Linked DNA regions of Homo sapiens: regions 1 and 3 are each linked to region 2. Evidence: fine-mapped expression QTL. A gene starts in region 2. Each other region holds a variant in brackets. All regions are shown on one strand. Distances are from middle to middle.

The links. PIP is the estimated chance that this variant, and not a neighbour inherited with it, causes the effect.
Region 1: its variant is the best candidate, but not a certain one, in a credible set for the expression of ZNF239 in adrenal gland (GTEx, PIP 0.50).
Region 3: its variant is the best candidate, but not a certain one, in a credible set for the expression of ZNF239 in whole blood (TOPMed, PIP 0.58).

Annotation. Positions count from the first base shown.
Region 1 is chr10:43,526,873-43,532,515 of GRCh38, reverse strand. No RefSeq gene overlaps it. Among named protein-coding and RNA genes, the nearest start is that of ZNF239, 45 kb to the left of the region's middle. The variant A/G (reference allele first, on the strand shown) is at 2,879.
Region 2 is chr10:43,572,570-43,578,212 of GRCh38, reverse strand. ZNF239 (zinc finger protein 239) reads left to right here and starts at 3,597. Exons shown (of 4, transcript NM_001099282.2): 1 at 3,597-3,673; 2 at 4,536-4,576. RefSeq lists a silencer at 3,815-3,874.
Region 3 is chr10:43,538,739-43,544,381 of GRCh38, reverse strand. No RefSeq gene overlaps it. Among named protein-coding and RNA genes, the nearest start is that of ZNF239, 33 kb to the left of the region's middle. RefSeq lists an enhancer at 1-188. The variant A/C (reference allele first, on the strand shown) is at 2,890.

The DNA.
Region 1 (5,643 bases), 46 kb after region 2:
GGCTCCTCGCCAGCAATGGAAAAAAGCTGGATGGAGAATGACTTTGACGAGTTGACAGAAGTAGGCTTCAGAAGGTCGGTAATAACAAACTTCTCGGAGCTAAAGGAGGATGTTCAAACCCATCGCAAGGAAGCTAAAAACGTTAAAAAAAAAATTAGACAAATGGCTAACTAGAATAAACAGTGTAGAGAAGACCTTAAATAACCTGATGGAGTTGAAAACCATGGCACGAGAACTTCGTGACGCATGCACAAGCTTCAATAGCCAATTCAATCAAGTGGAAGAAAGGGTATCAATGATTGAAGATCAAATTAATGAAATAAAGCAAGAAGACAAGGTTAGAGAAAAAAGACTAAAAAGAAACGAACAAAGCCTCCAAGAAATATGGGACTATGTGAAAAGACCAAATCTACATCTGATTGGTGTACATGAAAGTGACAAGGAGAATGGAACCAAGTTGGAAAACACTATTCAGGATATTATCCAGGAGAACTTCCCCAACCTAGCAAGGCAGACCAACATTCAAATTCAGGAAATAAAGAGAACACCACAAAGATACTCCGCGAGAAGAGCAACCCCAAGACACATAATTGTCAGATTCACCAAGATTGAAACAAACGAAAAGATGTTAAGGCAGCCAGAGAGAAAGGTCGAGTTACCCACAAAGGGAAGCCCATCAGAGAACAGACCTCTCGGCAGAAACCCTGCAAGCCAGAAGAGAGTGGGGGCCAATATTCAACATTCTTAAAGAAAAGAATTTTCAACCCAGAATTTCATATCCATCTAAGCTTCATAAGTGAAGGAGAAATAAAATCCTTTACAGACAAGCAAATGCTGAGAGATTTTGTCACCACCAGGCCTGCCTTACAAATGCTCCTGAAGGAAGCACTAAACATAGAAAGAAACAACCAGTACCAGCCACTGCAAAAACATGCCAAATTGTAAAGACCATCGATGCTATGAAGAAACTACATCAATTAATGGGCAAAATAACCAGCTAACATCATAATGACAGGATCAAATTCACACATAACAATATTAACCTTAGATGTAAATGGGCTAAATGCTCCAATTAAAAGACACAGACTGGCAAATTGGATAAAGAGTCAAGACCCATCAGTGTGCTGTATTCAGGAGACCCATCTCATGTGCAGAGACACATATAGGCTCAAAATAAAGGGATGGAGGAGATCTACCAAGCAAATGGAAAACAAAAAAAGGCAGGGGTTACAATCCTAGTCTCTGATAAAACAGACTTTAAACCAACAAAGATCAAAAGAGACAAAGAACCCCATTACATAATGGTAAAGGGATCAATTAAACAAGAAAAGCTAACTATCCTAAATATATGTGCACCCAATACAGGAGCATCCACATTCATAAAGCAAGACCTTAGAGACCTACAAAGAGACTTAGACTCCCACACAATAATAATGGGAGACTTTAACACCCCTCTGTCAATATTAGACAGATCAACAAGACAAAAGGTTAACAAGGATATGCAGGACCTGAACTCAGCTCTGCAACAAGCAGACCTAATAGACATCTACAGAACTCTCCAGCCCAAAGCAGCAGAATATACATTCTTCTCATCACCACATAGCACTTATTCTAAAAGTGACCACATAATTGGAAGTACAGCACTCCTCAGCAAATGTAAAAGAAATCACAACAAACTGTGTCTCAGATCACAGTGCAATCAAATTAGAACTCAGGATTAAGAAACTCACTCAAAACCACACAACTACATGGAAACTAAACAACTTGCCCTGGAATGACTACTGGGTAAATAACGAAATGAAGGCAGAAATAAAGATGTTCTTTGAAACCAATGAGAACAAAGACACAACATATCAGAATCTCTAGGACACATTTAAAGCAGTGTGTAGAGGGAAATTTACAGCACTAAATGCCCACAAGAGAAAGCAGGAAAGATCTAAAATCAACACCCTAACATCGCAATTAAAACAATCAGAGAAGCAAGAGCAAACAAATTCAAAAGGTAGCAGAAGGCAAGAAATAACTAAGATCAGAGCAGAACTGAAAAATATAGAGATACAAAAATACCCTTCAAAAAAATCAATGAATCCAGGAGCTGGTTTTTTTTAAAAGAGCAACAAAATCGATAGACCACTAGCAAGACTAATAAAGAAGAAAAGAGAAAAGAATCAAATAGACACAATAAAAAATGATAAAGGGGATATCACCACTGATCTAACAGAAATACAAACTACCACCAGAGAATACTATAAACACCTCTATGCAAATAAACTAGAAAATCTAGAAGAAATGGATAAATTCCTGGACACATACACTCTCCCAAGACTAAACCGGGAAGAAGTTGAATCTCTGAATAGACCAATAACAGGCTCTCAAATTGAGGCAATAATTAATAGCCTACCAACCAAAAAAAGTCCAGGACCAGACGGATTCACAGCTGAATTCTACCACAGCTAGAAAGACGAGCTGGTACCATTCCTTCTGAAACTATTCCAATCAATAGAAAAAGAGGGAATCCTCCCTAACTCATTTTATGAGGCCAGCATCATCCTGATACCAAAGCCTGGCAGAGACACAACAAAAAAAGAGAATTTTAGACCAATATCCCTGATGAACATCAATGCAAAAATCCTCAATAAAATACTGGCAAACTGAATCCAGTAGCACATTAAAAAGCTTATCCACCACGATCAAGTGGGCTTTATCCCTGGGATGCAAGGCTGGTTCAATATATGCAAATCAATAAACATAATCCATCACATAAACAGAACCAACAACAAAAAACCACATGATTATCTCAATAGATGCAGAAAAGGCCTTTGACAAAATTCAACAGCCCTTCATGCTAAAAACTCTCAATAAACTAGGTGTTGATGGA[A/G]CATATCTCAAAATGATAAGAGCTATTTATGACAAACCCACAGCCAATATCATACTTAATGGGCAAAAACTGGAAGCATTCCCTTTGAAAACCAGCACAAGACAGGGATGCCCTCTCTCACCACTCCTATTCAACATAGTGTTGGAAGTTCTGGCCAGGGCAATCAGGCAAGAGAAAGAAAAAAAGGGTATTCAATTAGGATAAGAGGAAATCAAATTGTCCCTGTTTGCAGATGACATTATTGTATATTTAGAAAACCCCATCATCTCAGCCCAAAATTTCCTTAAGCTGATAAGCAACTTCAGCAAAGTCTCAGGACACAAAATCAATGTGCAAAAATCACAAGCATTCCTATACACCAATAACAGACAAACAGAGAGCCAAATTATGAGTGAACTCCTATTCACAATTGCTACAAAGACAATAAAATACCTAGGAATCCAACTTACAAGGGATGTGAAGGACCCCTTCAAGGAGAACTACAAACCACTGCTCAACAAAATAAGAGGACACAAACAAATGGAAGAATATTCCATGCTCATGGATAGGAAGAATCAATATTGTGAAAATGGCCATAATGCCCAAAGTAATTTATAGATTCAATGCCATCCCCATCAAGCTACCAATGACTTTCTTCACAGAATTAGAAAAAACTACTTTAAAGTTCATATAGAACCAAAAAAGAGCCCGCATTGCCAAGACAATCCTAAGCAAAAAAAACAAAGCTGGAGGCATCAAGCTACCTGACTTCAAACTATACTACAAGGCTACAGTAACCAAAACAGCATGGTACTGGTATCAAAACAGATATGTAGACCAATGGAACAGAACAGAGCCCTCAGAAATAACACCACACATCTACAACCATCTGATCTTTGACAAACCTGACAAAAACAAGAAATGGGGAAAGGATTCCCTATTTAATAAATGGTGCTGGGAAAACTGGCTAGCCATATGTAGAAAGCAGAAACTGGATCCCTTCCTTACACCTTATACAAAAATTAATTCAAGATGGATTAAAGACTTAAATGTTAGACCTAAAACCATAAAAAACCCTAGAAGAAAACCTAGGCAATGCCATTCAGGACATTGGCATGGGCAAGGACTTCATGACTAAAACACCAAAAGCAATGGCAACAAAAGCCAAAATTGACAAATGGGATCTAATTAAACTAAAGAGCTTCTGCACAGCAAAAGAAACTACCATCAGAGTGAACAGGCAACCTACAGAATGGGAGAAAATTTTTGCAATCTACCCATCTGATAAAGGGCTAATATCCAGAATCTACAAAGAAGTCAAACAAATTTACAAGAAAAAAAACAAACAACCCCATCAAAAAGTGGGCAAAGGATATGAACAGACACTTCTCAAAAGAAGACATCTGTCTGGGTGCGGTGGCTCATGGCTGTCATCCCAGCACTTTGGGAGGCTGAGGCGGGTGGATCACGAGGTCTGGAGATCGAGACCATCCTGGCTAACATGGTGAAACCCTGTCTCTACTAAAAATACAAAACAAAAAAAATTAGCTGGGCATGGTGGCAAGCGCCGGAGGCTAAGGCAGAAGAATGGCATGAACCCGGGAGGCAGAGCTTGCAGTGAGCCAAGATCACGCCACTGCACTCGAGCCTGGGCAACAGAGCAAGACTCCGTCTCAAAAAAAAAAAAAAAAAGAAGACATCTATGCAGCCAACAGACACATGAAAAAATGCTCATCACCACTGGTCATCAGAGAAATACAAATCAAAACCACAATGAGATACCATTCTTGCCAGTTAGAATGGCAATCATTAAAAAGTCGGGAAACAACAGATGCTGGAGAGGATGTGGAGAAATAGGAACACTTTTACACTGTTGGTGGGAGTGTAAATTAGTTCAAACATTGTGGAAGACAGTGTGGCGATTCCTCAAGGATCTTGAACTAGAATTACCATACGACCCAGCAATCCCATTACTGGGTATATACACCCAAAGGATTATAAATCATGCTACTATAAAGACATATGCACACATATGTTTATTGTGGCACTATTCACAATAATAAAGACTTGGAACCAACCCAAATGTCCATCAATGATAGACTGGATTAAGAAAATTTGGCACATGTACACCATGGAATACTATGCAACCATAAAAAATGATGAGTTCATGTCCTTTGCAGGGACATGGATGAAGCTGGAAACCATCATTCTCAAAAAACTATCACAAGGACAGAAAAGCAAACACCACATGTTCTCACTCATGGGTGGGAATTGAACAATGAGATCACTTGGACACAGGAAGGGGAACATCACACACCAGGGCCTGTCAGGGGATGGGGGGCTGGGGGAGGGATAGCATTAGGAGAAATACCTAATGTAAATGATGAGTTGATGGATGCAGCAAACCAACATGGCACATGTATACCTATGCATCAAACCTGCACATTGTGCACATGTACCCTAGAACTTAAAGTATAATAAAAAAAAAAAAGAAGAAATCCACTACAGAAGGAACCAAGGAATTTAAGCATCAAAATTCCCACCTGCCCCCCACCATTTTTTTGTGAGCCCAGGATGGCTTTGAACTCCCAGGCTCGAGCAATCCTCCCCAGTCAGCCTCCAGATAATTACAGGCATGAGCTACCAAGCCTGGTTCATCTTCTCTGATTTTTCTCAATGTCACTTGAGTCTTTTGTGGCCCACACTAGTTAGGGGAATAGCCTGATCATCTGGCCAGATCTAAACTGAAATATCTGATGAGGCAGCTATATTTGGAGGGGCTGACC
Region 2 (5,643 bases):
AGGAATCAATATACTAAAGAGCTATCTGCATTCCCATGTTTACTGCAACAATATTCACAATATCCAAAATATGGAATCAACCTAAGTGGCCATCAATGGATGAATGGATAAAGAAATGTGGTGTATGTACATAACGGAATATTATTCAGTCATAAACAAGAATGAAATCCTGTCATTTGCAGCAATATGGGTGGAACTAGAGGCCATGATGTTAAGTAAATAAGCCAAGCACAAAAAGACAAATATTGCATATTCTCACTCATACGTGGGAGCTAAACAAAAAAACAAGTGGATTTCATGAAGATAGAGAGTAGATTGGTGGTAACCAGAGTTCAGAAAGAGTAGAGGTAGGGGTCTGAATAGAGGCTGGTTAAGGGGTATGTATTAGTCTTTTTTCACACTGCTATAAAAAAATGCCTGAGACTGGGTAATTTATAAAGAAAAGAGGTTTAATTGACTCACACTTCCACATGGCTGGGGAGGCCTCAGGAAACTTACAATCATGTTGGAAGAAGAAGCAGTCACCTTCTTCACAAGGTGGCAGGAGAGAGAAGAACAAAGGAGGAACTTCCAAACATATCTCACAAACCATCAGATCTTGTGAGAGCTCACTCACTGTCATGAGAACACCATGGGGGAAACTGCCCCTTGTGATCCAATCACCTCCCTCCCTCCACTTGTGGGAATTACAGGTCCCTCCCTCAACACGTGGGAATTACAATTCAAGATGAGATTTGGGTGGGGACACAGAGCCAAAACATACCAAGGTGTAATACACAGTTAGACAGAAAAAATAAGACCTGGTGTTCAATAAACCAGTAGGTTAGCTATGGTTAACATTAACCTACTGTACATTTCAAAATAGCCAGAAGAGAATCATTTGAATATTTCCGGCATACAGAAAAGACAAATACTTGGCGATAGATATCCCAATTTCCCTGCTTTGATCTTTACACATAATATTAATCAAATTATCACATGTACCCCCAAAATATGTGCATCTATTATATACCAATTTTTAAAATTAAGTTAAAAATTAAATTTTGGGTTTTGCATGTGAAAAAAGAGAGAATATGGGAGAAAAGAAATTGGAAACATCCCTTAGGGACAATTTTTTTAGGAGTTTTGCTGTAAAGCAAAGCAGAGAAATGAGGTAGTGGCTGGAGAGAAATAGGGTGCAAGGTAAGGGGTTTTATTTATTTTATGGACAATATTACAGTGTATTCATTAGTATGCTGATAATTCAGTACAGAATGAAAATCTTGAAATACAGAAGAGAGAGAAGGACCTCATTCATGAGAAAGCATTTAACATCCAGGGTGCAAAAGAATTTTCTCATATAGGAACTAGGGCCAGTGACTCAGAATGAAAAGTAGAGCATACAGTTTCTAATGCAGAGAGGAGGGCAGATGTGCCTGTGAGGCGGTATAGAAGTTCTCTTTACTCAGTAACAGAAAGCAAAGTCATCAGCACTCAGTGAGATGGGAGGAGTTGTTGGCGGCTTGAAAAGAGAGTAGAAGACCAGGCATGGTGGCTCAGCCTGTAATCCCAGCACTTTGGGAGGCTGAGGTGGGACGATCGCTTGATCCCAGGAGGTGGAGACCAGCCCGAACAACATGGTGAAACTTCATCTCTTAAAAAAAAAAATACAAAAATTAGCCTGGTGTGGTGGCGCAAGCCTATAGTCCCAGCTACTTAGGAGGCTGAGGTGGGAGGGTTGCTTGTGCCCAGGAAGCAGAGATTGCAGTCAGCCAAGATCGCACTACTGAACTCCAGCCTGGCTCAAAAAAATAAATAAATAAATAATGAAAAGAGAGTAGAACCTGTGAAATAGTCATTTAGGAGAATGGATGGACTAAGAAATGTAGAAGGATAGCCAGGCAGCGTGAAGGGCCCACTTGAACTTAATGGTTATAAACTGAAAATGAAACCAATCATCCCAGCCATGTGGTTTTCTCAAACAACCTCTGCCGTACAGGCGCAGGCCAGGAACTGGATTCAAGCAGATTTGGGTTTCCATCAAGAGAATAAAACCAAGAAAGACTGGGACAAGAGAGTTAAGGGTAACGGCACATACACAGGACTGGCCATAACCATGCTCCATGGCCTCTTAAATTGAGTGAGGAGAGAAGTGAGCACATGAGGAAGTGAAGGTCAGGGCAAGGGTGGTAAATCTAAATAGGGAAAAGCTCTGTGGTTTTCCAATGAAGAATGAGGAGAGGAGTAAGGTCCAAGGGAGACATTTTGTGTTCCCCAGGCAAAAGGTAAGACAGCATCTCTGAGGAGGAGACCGAAGGGGACGTGGGCCTCTCCAAGCATCGCAGGCTGAAAATAATAGTCCCCCAAATATGTCCATGTCCTAACCCCCAGAAGCTGTGGATGTTAATTTCTATGGCAAGAGGGATTTTTTTTGAAATGTGATTAAATTAAGGATCTTGACGTCAAGAGATTATCCCAGATTAGCCAGCTGGGCCTGATGTAATCACAACAGTCGTTATTAGAAGGACCCACGAGGAGCCAGTGCCTGAGCATGTGATGTGATGATGAAGGCAGAGGTTGCAGTCATGCACTTTGAAGATAAAGGAGCGAGCCATAAGCCAAGGAATGCAAATAGTCACTGGGAACTGGAAAAGGCAAAGAAATATTCTCATCTAGAACCTCCAGGAGGAACTAGCCCCACCAACACTGACTTTATAAAGCCCAGTAAAACTTGATTTCAGACTTGGCACCTCCAGAAGTTTAAGAGAATACATGTTTGTTATACTACTAAGTTTGTGTTAATTTGTTGTGACAGCAATTGGAAACTAATACACCAAGGAAGGGGGAGGATGTAGAAGAGAGGTCCAGGCAACATCTCTTTCCTCTCCAAAATAAATCTGAAAGAAAGGAATTGGGAAAAGACCAAATGGGTAGCTCTGTGTCACTCGGTGAGAAGTGAAATAAACGTAAAATCCTGGTATCAACAACCCTTGTGTGCGTTTAGGAGAGTTCTGACTGCTGGGAGCCACTTGTCTAATTCCCTCACCTCCTGTGTTTGTTCCAAGATCCCCTATTTAAAATTGCAAAGTACACCTCCAGTCCTACACACCCACAAACGCACCTCGCCACACCCCGCCCAGCTCTATGCTTTCAGTACCACCTCATGACACACACGACGCCATATATTTACTATATTTATGGATTGCTTGTTTCCCCAACTAGAATAGGGCAGTGACTTTTGTGCAAGCATCTTGAACAGCTCCTGGTACACAGTTGGCTCTCAATTAATATCTGTTAAATGGATGAACTTCAGAGGTGAGATGGAAGATGCCGAATGGCAAATATTCACTTCAGAATGTTTTGAAAGGTAAAGATGAAATTATGGGTATTTACATCCTTTTCCCCCAATAGTATTTTAACAAATGAAAATCACCTTAACAGGTATTCCTAAAATAATTCTTATTTGTTTGTAATAAAAAACGAGGAGGAGGACTTGAATACACGCGTCGCTGACTCAAAGATGGTCCCCTCCGCCCAAGAATCCCGCTCCGCACAGCGCAGAGTTCAGGGGCCCGCGCCGGAAGTGGGCGTGGTTCGCCCGCGGCTTGCTGGGACTTGTATTTCGGGGCCCTAGGCGCGCGAGCGGTCAGCATCCGGAATCTGGCCCCTGCAGGCGTGGGGTTCCACGTGGGAGGTGAGACTGGCCGGGCTTCCCCAGCCGCTGGCAGAGGCGTTCAGGGGTCAGGAAATGGGTGTGCCGCGGGTAAGGCGCTGGGCCGCCGAGCTGCGGAAGCCGGGAGGGCGGCGATGGTAGGGCACGCGACCAGCGGAGGCGCGGCCCGCGGCGGCACGTGTGTCCCGGCGCCGCATTTCCGAGCTGCTGCGCCCCCGGGGCCGGGCTGCGGCCACACCGAAGCCTGTGGGGCCCTGCAGCTGAGCGGCCGCGCCTCCGATGGCCCCTCCTCCCTCCTGGCCGAGCTCTGGCCTGGGCCGGCTGGGGGCTTCGTGGTTGGCCACGCCGGCCTTTTCCTCGCCTGTGACGGGCGTTATTGCAGGGGGGTTTTCGGTGGACGTTAGGCGACGGACGGGGGCTCCTGTAAGAGACTGAGGTTTCTGTCCGCAGCACTGCCTTCGCTGAAAAGAGCTTGCATCTGAGCCCCCGCACCGCAGGAACGAGCCAGGCTCCTGAGAATGAGGTCGGGGAAGGCGTCTTGGGCAACCGAAATCCATCCCGAGAAGCTTCTCCTCTTAACTAGAACTTTAGGACAGAGATCGGGAAAGTCAGAGGAAATGGGCACGGCTTCGAGCTGCCGGCGGCTGCGGAATTTACCTAGCCTCTTGGTTTTGGGGGGAAAACTTGGCTTGTTTAATCGAAAGCCCTGTGGAGAGAGATGAAGGTGGTGACAGAAAATGCTTCACCTCTCACCTGATGGAGGGAGTGTGGGTGGAAGTGACTGAAGAAGCGTCAGAGGCAGGAGCGGAGTAACTTTTTCCCCGCAGTCTTGCTGGACTTGATTTTCATGGCTTTTTCTCTTTCCCTAACTCTGCCTTTCCAGGAATCCATCCCCTCTGGGAGTAAGAAATGACCAGGGTCCGGGTGAGTTGGCGTTCCATTTCTCCTAAAATGCCATCTCCCTGAAATGTCCCTGTGCCATGTGTTGTTTTCTTTATTGTCAGGCCCCCAGTACGGTATTTTATAGCTATGGATGTAGGGACATTAAGATACTAAGGACATGTAGCTAGCAGATGATGTCACCAGGGTCTGCACAGAGAGTTTTCACTGGCCCATCCTGCCTCCAAGAATTTATTCCACTCCTCAGAGCAGTGGGCTGTGCCCTCCTGGGGAGCCTCTCAAAGCCTGCCTTTTCCTGCCAGACATTTCACTCACATTGAAAGTCATTCCAAGCTATTCCATACTCATCCCAGTGCTAAGTGGTCTCAGCAAAACAGATAGAATGATAAACCACGGTGCTTTTCTTCAAGGAGCTTACCATCTTGATGAACATATTATATTACCTGTACACAAAAAAATGCATATTAATAGTGATAATTTATTAACTATGAGTCAAAAACGAGGAAATTCGTTAAATGGCAGCACAGTGGTTACAAAATCACTCTAGAAATGCTTTTCAACTAGGCTATGCATCAGAACTCTCTGTGGTGTTTTTTAAGAACTAAGCTTCCTTCTCTCTTCCAGACCTAGTGAAAGGAGAGTTTCACTCCTTTTTTATTCTGTTGATCTTTGTACATCCAAAGGTTTATTGTGAAATATCTCTCTATACACTATAAGTGTCTCTAGGGTAGGTAAAATGAGTTATTCATCCTTTATACTCAGGTTGATTTGTTCTCTTTCACTAGCATGTCTACATATTTAACTGTTCCAGTAAATTTTAAATTACCAAGTCGTACTTTTTTAAAGAGAGTTTTCAGTTGTCCCCATAAAACCATCTGTAGGAGGTTACCTCAAAATTAACCCTTAGACTCCCAGGGTATTTGAGATGGTCAGCCCCCACTTAGAATCCCATGGTGTTTGAGATGGTCGGCCCCCTCTTTGCCCTGTCCTGGCGTTTTATGGTGGAGAGCTCTAACTCGGCTAACTCTGAGAGAGCCGAAGGAAAGTGCCTTGTCCTTTGTTTCAGAGAGCAGAAGGCCAGAAATAAACCC
Region 3 (5,643 bases), 34 kb after region 2:
CCTGAGTGGACACAGCACATGTTTCAGAGAGCACGGGGTTGGGGGTAAGGTAATAGATTAACAGCATCCCAAGGCAGAAGAATTTCTCTTAGTACAGAACAAAATGGAGTCTCCTATGTCTACTTCTTTCTACACAGACACAGTAACAATCTGATCTCTCTTTCTTTTCCCCACATTTCCCCCTTTTCTTTTCGACAAAACCGCCATCGTCATCATGGCCCGTTCTTGATGGTCGCTGTCTCTTTGGAGCTGTTGGGTACACCTGCAGAAAGGCTGTCACTTCACACTTGGAAGATTGCACAGCAGCCAGGCAGAGGCGCTTCTCACTCCCCAGACGGGGCAGCCGGGCAGAGGCGCTCCTCACTCCCCAGACAGGGCAGCCAGGCAGAGGCGCTCCTCACCTCCCAGACTATGGGTGGCAGGGCAGAGGTGCTCCTCACTTCCCAGATGATGGGCAGCCGGGCAGAGGTGCTCCTCACTTCCCAGATGATGGGCAGCCGGGCAGAGGCGCTCCTCACTTCCCAGACGGGGCGGCCGGGCAGAGGCACTCCTCACCTCCCAGATGCCTCTTTTATTCTTAAGTGAATTTTCAATTCTGCATAATTTAATCTTTTCCAATTTTTCTAATATTATCTTTGCATAAATTATTATAACCTGTATCAATTATTTTCTATATAAATTTCACATGATGTGATCTGTCAATCAGGTGTTTATTTGTATAATGCAATGAATTTATGTGTATGATGTTCTCTTCTAGCTCTAAAAAAAAAAAAAAAAAAAGAAGCCAGGTGTGGTGGCTCACTCCTGTAATCCCAGCACTTTGGGAGGCCAAGGCGGGTGGATCACGAGATCAGGAGGTCAAGACCATCCTGGCTAACACGATGAAACGCTGTCTCTACTAAAAATACAAAAAATTAGCCGGGCGTGGTGGTGGGCACCTGTAATCCCAGCTACCTGGGAGTCTGAGGCAGGAGAATGGCGTGAACCCAGGAGGCAGAGATTGCAGTGAGCCGAGATTGTGCCACTGCACTCCAGCCTGGGGGACAGAGCAAGACTCTGTCTCAAAAATAAATGAATAAATAAAAATAAAAATAAATTAGCCAAGCATAGTAGTGGGCTCCTGTAATCCCAGCTACTCTGGAGGCTGAGGCAGAGAATTGCTTGAACCTGGGAGGTGGAGGTTGCAGTGAGCCGAGATCACACCACTGCTCTCCAGCCTGGATGACATAGCGAGACTCCGTCTCAAAAAAAAAAAAAAAGAAGAGAGAGAGACCTAAGATGATGTTTCCTCCTCCAGAGGAATTTTTCTTGCTGCTAACGGGGGACACACTCCTTGATATCTTTAAAGGAATTTCGTGTTAGGTGCAGTGCCTCATGCCTATAATCCCAACACTTTGGGAGGCCAAGGCAGGAGGATTGCTTGAGTCAAAGAGTTTGAGACCAGCCTGGGCAACTGGACAACAGACCCTATCTCTACAAAAAAAAAAAAAAAAAAAAAAATTCCTGGGCATGGTGGCACATGCCTGTAGTCCCAGCTATTTGGGAGGATCATTTGAGCCCAGGAAGTTGAGAATGCAGTGAGCCATGATCACACCACTGCACTCCAGCCTGGGCAACAGAGCAAGACCATATCTCAAAAAAAAAAATAAAAATAAAAGGAGATTTCAGGGCTGAAGAATGTTCTGGGCTTTCCAAACATCTTGAAGTCCACTGCAATTTGTGGGAAGGCTGATTTTCTTTTTGTTCATGCTACCTGTACAGAATCTTCCAAGGGTCCGGTCAAGGCAGAGGTATCCTGGTCCATCTCATCCATGGGCCACAGAGGTCTCTTTCTGCCCCATCATCCCTGCAACACCCTTAAAAGCAAACCTCAGCCTATTACCTCTCTCAGGTCAGCCTGAGTCTCCAGAGCAAAGGCAGCCTCATACGTTGTGCTGACATGGAATTCCCATTCTTTTTACATCATACCCCAGTGATCACTGTCTTATTATTTATGTGCTTAGAAAGAATGTTGAAAGTATTTTTATTTTTTTCGAGACAGAGTCTCACTCTGTCACCCAGGCTGTAGTGCATTGATGCATCTTGGCCCACTGCAACATCCACCTCCTGGGTTCAAGTGATTCTCATGCCTCAGCCTCCCCAGTAGCTGGGATTACAGGCATGTGCCACAAAGCCTGGCTATTTTTTGTATTTTTGGTAGAGATGGGGTTTCACCATGTTGGCCAACCTGGTCTCAAACTCCTGACCTCATGTGATCCGCCTGCCTCGGCCTCCCAAAGTGCTGATATTACAGGCAAGAGCCACTGCACCCAGCCTAAAATATTTTTTTCAGCTTTGTCCATTTTCTTTATTACACAGGTTGATCAAAATTATCTTGTCTACTTTTAATGGAATAATCCCCTACACGAGCAAAAGCAGAAGTTGTCTAAATGTCAAAATATAGGATATGGGTAAACCCAAATGCAGTTTTGAAAAGTGGAAAAATATTTGGCCATTAAGCATATTTTCAAGATAGAATGGGGCATGGAAAGAGTTCACAGCATATCACAAAATTTTAAATGCAAGTTACACAAGAACATTGGCTGGGTACAGTGGCTCACCCCTGTAATCCTAGCACTTTGGGAGGCTGAGCCAGGTGGATCACTTGAGGTCGGGAGTTTGAGACCAGCATGGCCAACATGGTGAAACCCTGTCTCTACCAACTCTACTAAAAATACAAAAATTAGCCGGGCATGGTGGTGAGCACCTGTAATCCCAGCTACTTGGGAGGCTTAGGCAGGAGAATCGCGTGAACCCAGAGGGCAGAGGTTGCAGTGAACCGAGACCACACCAATACACTCCAGCCTGGGCACTGGGCAACAGAGCAAGACTCTGTCTCAAAAAAGAAAG[A/C]ATATTTAAGACATGATCTCATTTTTTTATAAGTATACATATACCCTAAAATCTAAACTGAAGTGTAAGAAACAAAGAAAAATTCAATCAATACAAAACAATTACTTGGGCCAGGCACAGTGGTTTGTGCCAGTAATCCCAGCACTTTGTGAGGCTGAAGCAGGAGGATCACTTGAGGCCAGGAGTTCAAGACCAGCCTGGCCAACATGGTGAAACCCCGTCTCTACTAAAAATACAAAAATTAGCTGGGTGTGATGGTGCAGACCTATAATCCCAGCTACTCAAGAGGCTGAGGCATGAGAATCATTTGACTCCAGGAAACTCATCACAGCCTTGACCTCCGCAGCTCAAGTGATCCTCCCACCTCAGCCTTCCAGTATGATTGCTTGGTGCTAGCACAGCCTTGTTAATCCTGAGCCCAGGGCCACTGTGTTAGCCCATTATCGCATTGCCATAAAGGAACAGCTGAGGCTGGTAATTTATGAAAAGAGGCTTACTTGGCTCATGGTTCTGCAGGCTGTACAGGAAGCATGGTGCCAGCATCTGCTCAGCTTCTGCTGAGGGCTTCAGGAAGCTTCCAATGATGCTGGAAGGCAAAGGGTGAGCCAGTGCATCACATGGCAAGAGAGGAAGAAGAGAGACCTGAGGAAGGAGGGGCCAAACTCTTTAAAACAACCGGCACTCAGCTCTCCAGAGAACTGACCAAGAACTCACTCATCACCAAGGGAATGGTGCTAAGCCATTCATGAGGGATCCGCCCCCATGATCCAGTACCTCACTAGGCCCGACCTCTGACAGTGGAGGTCATATTTCAACATGAAATGTGGAGGGGACACACATCCTGACCATATCAGCCATGAACCCAGGAACTATCAATGCTGAGGAAGACATGAGGGCCCTAACACTCCACGGAGACTGAGTGTGGTTCCTAATCTCTCTCAATTTCCCTTTCTCTTTAACAGAATGTTACTCTGAGACCACAGAACATGATGGCACCCAGGCGCTAAGCTGTACTTGTGCAGCCTTAACATCTGAGCTCCCTCTCCTGGACCCACTGAGCACGAGGCAGGGGGCACACATTAGACAAGTAATAATGGTTTGTTCAAGGCTTAGTTCCACTCTTCCAGATATAGATAATTCTACCCACTTATAGATGAAGAGATAGAGGCTCCAATGGGAGGAGAAAAGGCTGAGTAATTGGGGCCTGAAAGGCTCATTTTAAGCTTTTGTTATGGACTGAATGTTTGCGTCTCCTATGTTGAAGTCATAATCCCCAATACAGCTGTATTTGGAGATTCTGCCTCCAAATTACATCCTCAATTAAGGATGCAACTAAGGTAAAATGAGGTCATAAGGGTGGCATCCGGCTCTGATAGGATTGGTATCCTTATAGGGAGAGACATCAGGGAGCTCTCTGTCTCTCTCTCTCTCTGCACTGAAGCACCAAAGAAAGGCTATGTGAGACCAGGCACAGTGGCTCACACCCAAAATCCAGCACTTTGGAAGGCTGAGGCAGGTGGATGGCTTGAGGCTAGGAGTTCAAGACTAGCCTGCCCAACATGAAGAAACCCCCTCTCTAATAAAAATACAAAAATTAGCTAGGTGTGGTGGCACATGCCTATAATCCCATTACTCAGGAGGTTGAGGCAAGAGAATCACTTGAACCTGGGAAGCAGAGTTGCAGTGAGTCAAGATTGTGCCACTGCACTGCAGCCTGGGTGACAGAGCAAGACTCTTTTTTTTTTTTTTTTTTTGAGATGGAGTCTCACTCTGTCACCCATGCTGGAGTGCAGTGGTGCGATCTCAGCTCACTGCAAGCTCCACCTCCCAGGTTCATGCCATTCTCCTGCCTCAGCCTCCCGAGTAGCTGGGATTACAGGCATCCACCACCACACCTGGCTAATTTTTTTTGTATTTTTAGTAGAGATGGGATTTCACCATGTCAGCCAGGATGGTCTCAATCTCCTGACATCGTGATCCACCCACCTCAGCCTCCCAAAGTGCTGGGATTACAGGCATGAGCCACCGCACCCAGCCAAGATTCTGTCTTAAAACAAGAAAGAAAGAGAGAGAGAGAGAAAGAAGAAAGAAAGAGAGAGAAGGAAGGAAAGAAGGAAGGAAGGAAGGAAGGAAAAAAGGAAAGAAGGCAAAGAGACAAAGAGGAGGCTCATGCATGTAATCCCAGCACTTTGGGAGGCTGAGGCAGGTGGATCACCTGAAGTCAGGAGCTCCAGACCAGCCTGGCCAACACAGTGAAACCCTGTCTATATTAAAAATACAAAAATTAGTTGGGCATGATGGCTCACGCCTGTAATCCCAGCTACTCAGAAGGCTGAGGCAGGAGAATTGCTTGAACCTGGGAGGTGGAAGTTGTGGTGAGCCAAGATGGCACCACTACACTCCAGCCTGTGAGACAGAGCAAGACTCTGAAAAAAAGAAAGAGAAGAGAAGAGAAGGAGGGGAAGGAAGGGAAGGAGAGAGAAAGAAAGAAGAAAGAGAGAGAAAAAAGAGAAAGAAAGAAAAGAAAGAAGGAAGGAAAAATATCGGGGGAAACAGCCCCCAATATTTCAATGTAGATTCTTTCTATTTTCCATAAGTGATGGCTGGCTGAGAAATAAAGGAAAGAGTACAAAGAGAGGAATTTTACAGCTGGGCCTCTGGGGGTGATATCACATATCGATAGGACTGTGATGTCCACTTGAGCCACAAAACCAGCAAGTTTTTATTAAGGATTTCAAAAGGGGAGGGGGTGTA